2 linked regions of the Homo sapiens genome follow. The protein of the gene in region 1 purifies or fractionates together with the protein of each later gene. This does not show direct contact. Each region holds a gene or a part of one and is shown in the gene's direction. Other genes may lie near its edges.

Region 1 (5,301 bases):
TTATATGCTGCTCAAACATGGCATATGAAAGTATACCTTTGTTCTATAGGAAAGTTGAAGCTTTGCAAGCATAGTAGATATTCATGACAAAGAAACCATTGGAAGAAACCCAGTAGACATTTTTGGGAGAGGTGGTAGCCAGAGTTAAAACTCCCATCCCTATTTCTTTGTTAGGTTTATTCTTGCTGCATTGAAAGAAAAATATTCCTACATTGCAGAGGTTTTCAACTTTGTAAAGTTGAAGACAACTGATTTCAGTTGTCTTAATGTTAGCAAACTATGGGATGTTTCCTAACACTGACTCACCATTACTGACTACAAAATGTTTTATAAGTGGAGGTGAAAGTGAGATAGACTCAAATGCCAGGTTTAGATGTCACAGTTTGTTTATAACTTTTTTTTCATTTTTTTAAATAATAAAAAAAAGTGTGTATCAGATGTGGGATTTGAAGTTTATAACTTTTTGATATGTCCCTTTCTCACTATACAAAATACAGAGATGTTCTTACTTGACTCCAAATTTTAGGGACTGGAAAAATTGAAATTAGACTTATTTCGCATAGAAAATATAAGGATTGATGAGAACTCAGTATTTTTCCAGTGTGAACCTACATTAAATGTTACTACCATTATATTAACTACTTTCTTTTCTGTAACATTGTGCTAAGCATTGTTCTCAGGAAACCTCTTGGATTTTGACCAGTATGGGTTAAAAAGCTGAGATAGGAAATGATTTATTAAGACAGACACTATAGGAGGCACAAAAAGAACCTAAAGTTTCGTAAAAATTAAACCCAGCAGTTACCTAGAGAATGAAGTTTATCACTAATAGGAGTAAGTGTACTTTTAGCGTTGGTTAATGAAGTATACATAAGTATGTAGAAAATGGTATTTTCTTGTCACATCTACTCTCATAATCTCACCTACATTTTAATTACTTGATTACAATTCCCAGGAACTTTGATCTCTAACTAATGATAAAAAGTTTTGAATTGGTGCAAGGCCTAAACACAGTTAAACAGAACACTTACAGTTGGATAGTTGCGACTGAAGTTCATGCCTTCTTTCAATTTCAAAGAAATTGAAAACAATTTCTTTCACGCTAGCCTCTTAGAAAAACCTAAGCATTTGGTTGCCAAAAGTCATGCACTTACGGTCCTAGCAAAGAATATATTATAAAAAAGGCATCTAACAAGGTAATGTTTTCTCCAGCAGCAGCGACAGCTGTGATAGGAATGATTCAAGCTGGTTCTCCAACTGAGTAAATCTCTGGCCTGGGTAGTCCAAAAGGATGGAAATCTGGATTAGGTGGTCTTTGAACCTTCTTCTTAAGGATTCCTTAGAAGGTTCTGTAATTACCAACAGTCATGGGATAGTTCACGTGAAGATGATGATGTGGCCCAGGTTGCTGCTCATGTCCCTTCCCACTTTACTGCCACATCAACCCATTTCCCACTCATGGCCTGCTCCTTCTCCCCTGTGCTGCTCTGTTCTTCCTAGAATGCAGTCCTTTTTGAAGCCTGCTCCCCTCATTGTCAAAGGTTAATTCAATTTTCATTTTCTCTTCTATACTCTATTGTACCTCTAATATGATCTAACTTGTTTTTATACCCATGTCGCAGGGTCTGTCTTAGTACTCTGCTTACTGTGACTATACAATAATTTTTAAAAATAAAATTGATACTCTTCGAACTGAAACAGAGAAGACATCCATCACCAAGAATACTTTTTTTTTTTCTGAGAAGGAGTCTTGCTCTGTCACCCAGGCTGGAGTACAATGGCATGATCTTGGCTCACTGCAGCCTCCGCCTCCCAGGTTCAAGTGATTCTCCTGCCTTAGCCTCCTGAGCAGCTGGGATTACAGGCACGCGCCACCACACTTGGCTAATTTTTTTTTTTTTTTTTTTTTTGAGGTGGAGTCTCATTCTGTCACCGAGCTGGAGTGAAGTGGGATAATCTTGGTTCACTGCAGCCTTGGCCTCCTGAGTAGCTGGGATTACAGGCATGCGCCCAGCTGATTTTTTTTTTTTTTTTTTTTTTTGTATTTTGAGTAGATACGAGGTTTTGCCATGTTGGCCAGGCTGGTCTCGAACTCCTGACCTCAAGTGATCCTCCGGCCTTGGCCTCTCATAGTGCTGGGATTACAGGCATGAGCCACCACTCCCGGCCACCAAGAATACATTTTGAAAAGAAGGTTCACATGACTAAAGGTGATAGATATCAGATGAGAAGTCATGGAATGTTAGAGTCGGAGGGAAACTGTGTGATCATTTCGTCTGATCTTTTTATTTTATATTTTGACTTGGAGAGTGACTGGCTGGGGCCACACAGCTAGCTGGTCAGCGTGGGGCCGGGGCCTGAGGTTTCTGGAGCTCTGATCATGACATAGGCATCTCCCTCATTGCCCAACAAAAGTTGTTAAAGATAGAGCAAATTTAAGTTTGATTTTAAGACACAAGGGACTCTTCTGTGGTAGTTCTTAGAATGTCTTTTTCTACTTTTTTTGTTTAAGGAATGTAGTTGAGATTTTGTTAAGCCGTTATGGCTGGATTCTGCTGGTGTCTTCAGGGACAGGGTATTATCATTTGCATCGTTTAATGTTTTGTTATTCAGGCAGGCTCAATAAAGCACTTAGGAGATTAGAGTTCTGCAGCTGGAATAAATAACAAGGCAAGATGCCCATTCCTACACATGATGCGTTGGACTCCACTGATGCTACTGCAGTGAAAGGCAATCAGTAAACAACTGTGGACAGGATCGAATGGGCTGTTGGAGATTTAGGGGCCTGTCTTGTTCAAGACCAAACAGATACAGAGAGAATCAGGGACAAGGTTTGAAACAACAAAAGGGTGAGCAATAAAACAGCAGTTTCGGGAATATTACTGGTATAAGGAATATATTTCTTCCTTGAAAGAAATACATTGGAATGCATCAAGAATCTCTTGAATATATTTTATCCTTGAATGCACATTAAATTTGTGAATTTAAGAATTGAGTGAGTGCACTCTCTTTTTTATCTTTTATCTTGCAAACAATTTTGGACCTGCTGTAATTTTGGCACACTTAATCCCTCTGCCTTCCAGATGAGCAATATCAGGTGTATAGCTAGTGTTTTCTGGACCCAGTATCAACAGGTGAGGGGGAGCATGTGAGGAGGATGAGCAAGAGTATTTGCCATGAGCACGAGTGTGTCTCACATGGTGGGGTTGGACGCTTTGTCAGGGAGATGGTGTCTGTTCTCTCACAGTAACCCATGCTTCTTTGTAGCGCTTAGCCCGATTCCAGTGAAATATCTGGTGGTGTGATTATTTATTCCATGTCCTTTCTAGCTTTGTGTGCTCCTAAGGACACAGCTTGCTCTGTCCTGTTCACCGCTATTCCTAGCTCCTTTCACAGTGTCTCACACATGCAAGGTGTTTAACAAATATTTGTTGACTGAGTAAATGGTTGCAGGTAGGAAGGAATGTTTGTCTACTGAACTTAAAGATATACACAGGGCCAGGCGTGGTGGCTCACGCCTGTAATCCCAGCACTTTGGGAGGCCGAGGCAGACAGATCACCTGACATCAGGAGTTCGAGACCAGCCTTGCCAACATGACAAAACCCCATCTCTACTAAAAGATACAAAAATTAGCTGGGCATGGTGGCAGATGGCTGTAATCCCAGCTCCTTGGGAGGCTGAGGCAGGAAGAATTGCTTAAACCCGAGAGGCAGAGGTTGCAGTGAGCCGAGATTGCACCACTGCGCTCCAGCTTGGGCAACAGAGCGAGACTCCATCTCAAAAAAAAAATAATAATAATAAAATAAAAGAAAAGATATACACAGGTGGGAGCATAGAGGTAAAGTGCACAGGCCCTCAGCAGAATTCTTGTATACAGCAACTGACTCTTCCATTGTATTTTATTATCTATTCATTTATTTTGAGACAGGGTCTCTCTGGGTTGTACAGCCTAGAGTGCAGTGGCACCATCACAGCTCACTGCATCCTTGAACTCCGGGCTCAAGTGATCCTCTCACCTTAGCCTCCCAAGTAGCTGGGACTACAGGAGTGCACCACCACACCCAAGGTTTTTTTTTGTTGTTGTTTTTTTTTTTTTTTGTACAGACAGGGTTTCACCATGTTGCCCAGGCTGATATCGAACTCCTGGACTCAAGCAGTCTGCCCGCCACAGCCTCCCAAAGTGCTAAGATTACAGGCGTGAGCCACCGTGCCCAGCTGTCATCCCATTTTTAACTATGTGTTTTTGGCAACTCATTTCACCTCTCTGTATCTTCATTTTCTCATGTATAAAATTGGATTGTAATTTCAGTCTCATGGAATTGTGAGGATTAAATGAGTGAATCCAGGTAAAGCTCTTAGTACAGGGCTGGCAATAATAAATGCTCAATAAATACTGACTCCTATTATAAATACTGACTCCTATTATTTCTTAATTACCCATCTTTTAGCTAATGAGAGATATGTTTTAAACTGTTGATTCTCTTTCCATGCAGCTTTTGGATTGCTTTGGGATTCCTGTGTTGATGGCTCTGTCATGGTTTATTCTTCATGCAAGATACAGAGTGATCCACTTCATCGCCGTGGCTGTCTGTCTGTTGGGTGTAGGAACCATGGTTGGTGCAGACATACTAGCAGGGAGGGAAGACAATTCAGGTGAGACGGTGTCACATGTTTGTGCTTCAATCACAGCAAATTTGTTTATGTTTTCACTTTTATATCAACAAAGAAACTTGTTTACTGGAGTATTTCTTTTTAAGTCACTGTGTAGGTGAGAACACTTTGCCACACTTTGTGTTGAATTCAGTTGATAGTATAAAATCTAATTGAGGTCTATGAATTCATCCAATCTTCAAGTGAGTTAAACGTCTCCTTGGATTGAGAGAGAAAATTACAGTTGATACTATAAAATCTAATTAAGGTCCATGAATTCACCCAGTCTACAAGTGAGTTAAGTGTCTCTTTGGATTGAGAGAGAAAATTATAGTTGATAGTATAAAATCTAATTAAGGTCTGTGAATTCACCCAGTCTACAAGTGAGTTAAGTGTCTCTTTGGATTGAGAGGGAAAATTACTTTGAAAGCAGGTTCCCATTTTTCAAATTGACCTACCCCTTCAATGAACTCCATTAATTTGTCATGTCATGGAATCATTTTCTGAGGCCTTACATTATGATATATATCATCAGTTTCTAGCCTGTTAGACTTCTGAGGAGTTAAATTATGAAAAATTACAGCAGAATTGCACCAGAAAGTGAGAAGAGTAAGAGATTTTAAACTTCTAGTAACCAGGTTGGGTGCGGT
Region 2 (3,500 bases), on another chromosome or scaffold:
GGTAGCACGTGCCTGTAATCCCAGCTACTTGGGAGGCTGAGGCAGGAGAACTGCTTGAACCCAGGAGGCAGAGGTTGCAGTGAGCCAAGACTGTGCCACTACACTCCAGCCTGGGTGACAGAGTGAGACTCTGTCTCAAAAATAAAAAATAAAAATAAATATTTGCTTAAATATTTTTGGTTCTAGGATTTGCTTTCCCCTACTGAAAGCTAACATGTTCTCCTGTTAGTAATGTTTCATAGATGTTGTTAGAAAACACAGTATTCTTGGGTCAGAGAAAGTCCTTGCTATGCTTAGTAATTTTATTTTCTTACAAAATTATAGGGGTAAATTTTAAAATTTTCAATTAATACCTATTTTATAGAGGAAAAACCAGACTTAAGTGATTAAGTAACTTGTATAAGGTTTGCTTAGCTAGTAAATGGCAGAACCAGGATTGGAAGTTAGTTTCTTTGAGTCCATCCTGTTACTCTCTATATACTATATTAACTCTTTGAATCCCTCTTTGTTGGGTTGAGAGATCTGTATATATCTTTAGAGTGAGATTTTAGGCCAGGTGCAGTGGCTCACACCTGTAATCCCAGCACTTTAGGAGGCTGAGATGGGTGGATCACTTGAGGTCAGGAGTTCGAGACCAGCCCGGCCAACATGGCGAAACCCCATCTCTACAAAAAGTACAAAAATTAGCCAGACGTGATGGTGCGTGCCTGCATGCCTGTGGTCTTCAGCTACCTGGGGGGCTGAGGCGGGAGAATCACTTGAGCCCAGGAAGTTGAGGCTATAGTGTTTTGTATTTGTGCCACTGCACTCCTGCCTGGGTGACAAAGTGAAACCCTTTTTTATTTAAAAAAAAAAAAAGACTTAAATTTTGTGTTCTTTATTCTGTATTCTTACTAATTTCTAGGTTGTTTTATATATCAACTTTTTTTTGTCTTTTTGAGACAGGGTCTTGCTGTCTCACCAAGCCTGGATTGCAGTGATGGTATCACAGCTCACTGCAGTCTCGACCTCCCAAGGTCAAGCCACCCTCCCACCTCAACCTCCCAGGAGGACCACAGGCATACATCACCAAGCCTGGCTAATTTTAAATTTATTTTTTGTGGCCGGGTGCGGTGGCTCACGCCTGTAATCCCAGCACTTTGGGAGGCCGATGGGGGTGGATCATTTGAGGTCAGGAGTTCAAGACCAGCCTGGCCAACATGGTGAAACCCCGTCTCTACTAAAAATACAAAAATTAGCTGGGCATGGTGGTGTTTGCCTGCAGTCCCAGCTACTTGGGAGGCTGAGACAGGAGAATCGCTTGAATCCGGGAGGCGGAGGTTGCAGTGAGCTGATATTGTGCCACAGCACTCCAGCCTGGGTAAGAGAGCAAGAATCAGTCTCAAAAAAAAAAAAAAATTTTTTTTTTCCTAGAGATGTGGTCTCCCTATGTTACACAGGCTAGTCTCAAAACTCTTGGGCTCATGTGATCCTCCAACCTCAGCCTCCCAAAGTGCTGGGATTACAGGTGTAAGCCTGGCTAGTATATCAATTTCTGATGGAAATGTTAAAATCTATGATTGCAGATTTTGTCCATTTGTCTATATAATTCTGACTTACATTTAAATATTTCAAAGCCATATTTGAAAGCTATCTATAGCTATATATAAATATATAATTATAAAAATAATTCTATTGCAAACATATGCAAAGTTAGATATAATTTACGTATTTCAAAGGTATATACAAGTTCAGGAATTTTAATATTCTTGGTGAATTGCTTTCCTTCTTTATCATCCTATTTACTTATTTTGCCTTAAGTAATTTGTATGTATTAATATTGCTAATGAGCTATTTTGGGAGTTGGTGTTTGTCTGATATATCTTTCCCATAACTTTATTTTCAGTGTTCCTATTTGGTTTTGTTGTAGGTATGTTTCTTAAGCATACAGCTATAGTTTTGGGGTTTTATAAAAAATTTAGTCCTATAGTGTCTGGGTTTTGTTTTGTTTTTGAGATGAGCTCTTGCTCTGTTGCCCAGGATGGTCTCTGCATTTGTCTGTTCTCATGCTGCTAATAAAGACATAGCCGAGACTGGGCAATTTATAAAGGAAAGAGGTTTAATTGACTCACAGTTCCACATGGTTGTGGAGACCTCACAATCATGGTGGAAGATGAAGGAAAAGCAAAGGGATGTCTTACATGGTGGCGGCAGGCAAGAAAGAATGAGAGCCCAAGCGAAAGGGGAAACTCCTTATAAAACTATCACATCTCGTGAGACTTATTCACTACCATGAGAACAGTATGGCAGGAAACCACCCCCATGATTCAGTTATCTCTCACCCTGTCCTTTCCACAACACATGAGAATTATGGGAGCTACAGTTCAAGATGAGATTTGGGTGGGGACACAGCTAAACCATGTCAGTCTCCAACTCCTGGGCCCAAGCAATCCTTGCACCTTGGCCTCCCAAGTCACTGGGACTACAGGTGCATGCCACCATGCCTAGCAAGTCTCTGTCTTAAAAACTCTTGTGCATGTGTAACAAATTTTAATTCACAAAGGTTACATTTCAAGAGTTACTTTTTACTGTAGTTGAGATAAGGGGAGTCTGGACAACATTGTGACACTTGTCTCTACAAAAAAAAGTTATAAAAAATTAGCCAGGCCTGGTGGTTCATGCCTGCAGTCATTCCCAGCTACTTGGGAGGCTGTGGGAAGATTGTTTGAACCCAGGAGTTCAAGGCTGCAGTAAGCCATGTTCATGCCACTGCACTCCAGCCTGGGTGACAGAGCAAGACTCTCAGAAAGAATAATCTGGAGATATTGTTGAGAACTTGGGTTTTGTTTTTTATTTTGAGTGTTATACAAGTTCAAAGTCTAGTATAAATTTCTCAGAGCCAACATGGTGCTGATGGAGTGAGCTATTTGTGCATTTTAAACTGAAACTCTTGTCATTAGTGTTAGCCCTTTATCAGCTTTGTATCTCTAAAACACCTGAAAGACTGTCTTAGAAAACCATCATAGCTTGTTGATTATGAGTACATCCCTTGGTTTGGAATCATAAGGACTAAGACTTAAATTTAAAGCATGAGAAATTAAGATGTTTTTACACTAAGGAGAAGTTGTAAAAAATACTGATTTGGAATCTCTGTAAGTGACTTCTGTTTTTTTGTAGAGTCACCTAGGCTGTGTGGAATACAATGTGGTTAGAATCTTTTAAACTAAAATAACTCAGTATATTGTTTATTAAACTTTCTAGGGAAATGGGCAGATTACTCTGAATATTCCTTTTCCTTCTGCTTTTCTTTTTATCTTAAAAAGGAGTAAATTGCATGGATGACTTGAAGTGACGAGTTGGTATTTATTATTTGAATCAACAGTAAAAATTTTTTGGACATAGTGTGAAAATCCTTATTTAAGTAATTAGGGCAGAATTCTTGTCAATTAAAAAAAAATCTCAATGGCAAAGTAGAGCTGTAAAGAAGGAGTTAGGAATAATAACTACATTCAAGATGAAAG

Evidence for each region. Proteins that work in one complex are often made in the same cells at the same time.
Region 2: the proteins of SLC35F2 (region 1) and REEP5 purify together in Homo sapiens (affinity purification with mass spectrometry; 2 studies listed by BioGRID and IntAct, with this or other methods). This does not show direct contact.

The regions. Positions count from the first base shown.
Region 1 is NC_000011.10:107,806,070-107,811,370, reverse strand, and holds part of SLC35F2 (solute carrier family 35 member F2), read left to right. Parts: intron 1-4,494; coding exon 4,495-4,654; intron 4,655-5,301.
Region 2 is NC_000005.10:112,887,728-112,891,227, reverse strand, and holds part of REEP5 (receptor expression-enhancing protein 5), read left to right. Parts: intron 1-3,500. UniProt on the Homo sapiens protein: Plays an essential role in heart function and development by regulating the organization and function of the sarcoplasmic reticulum in cardiomyocytes.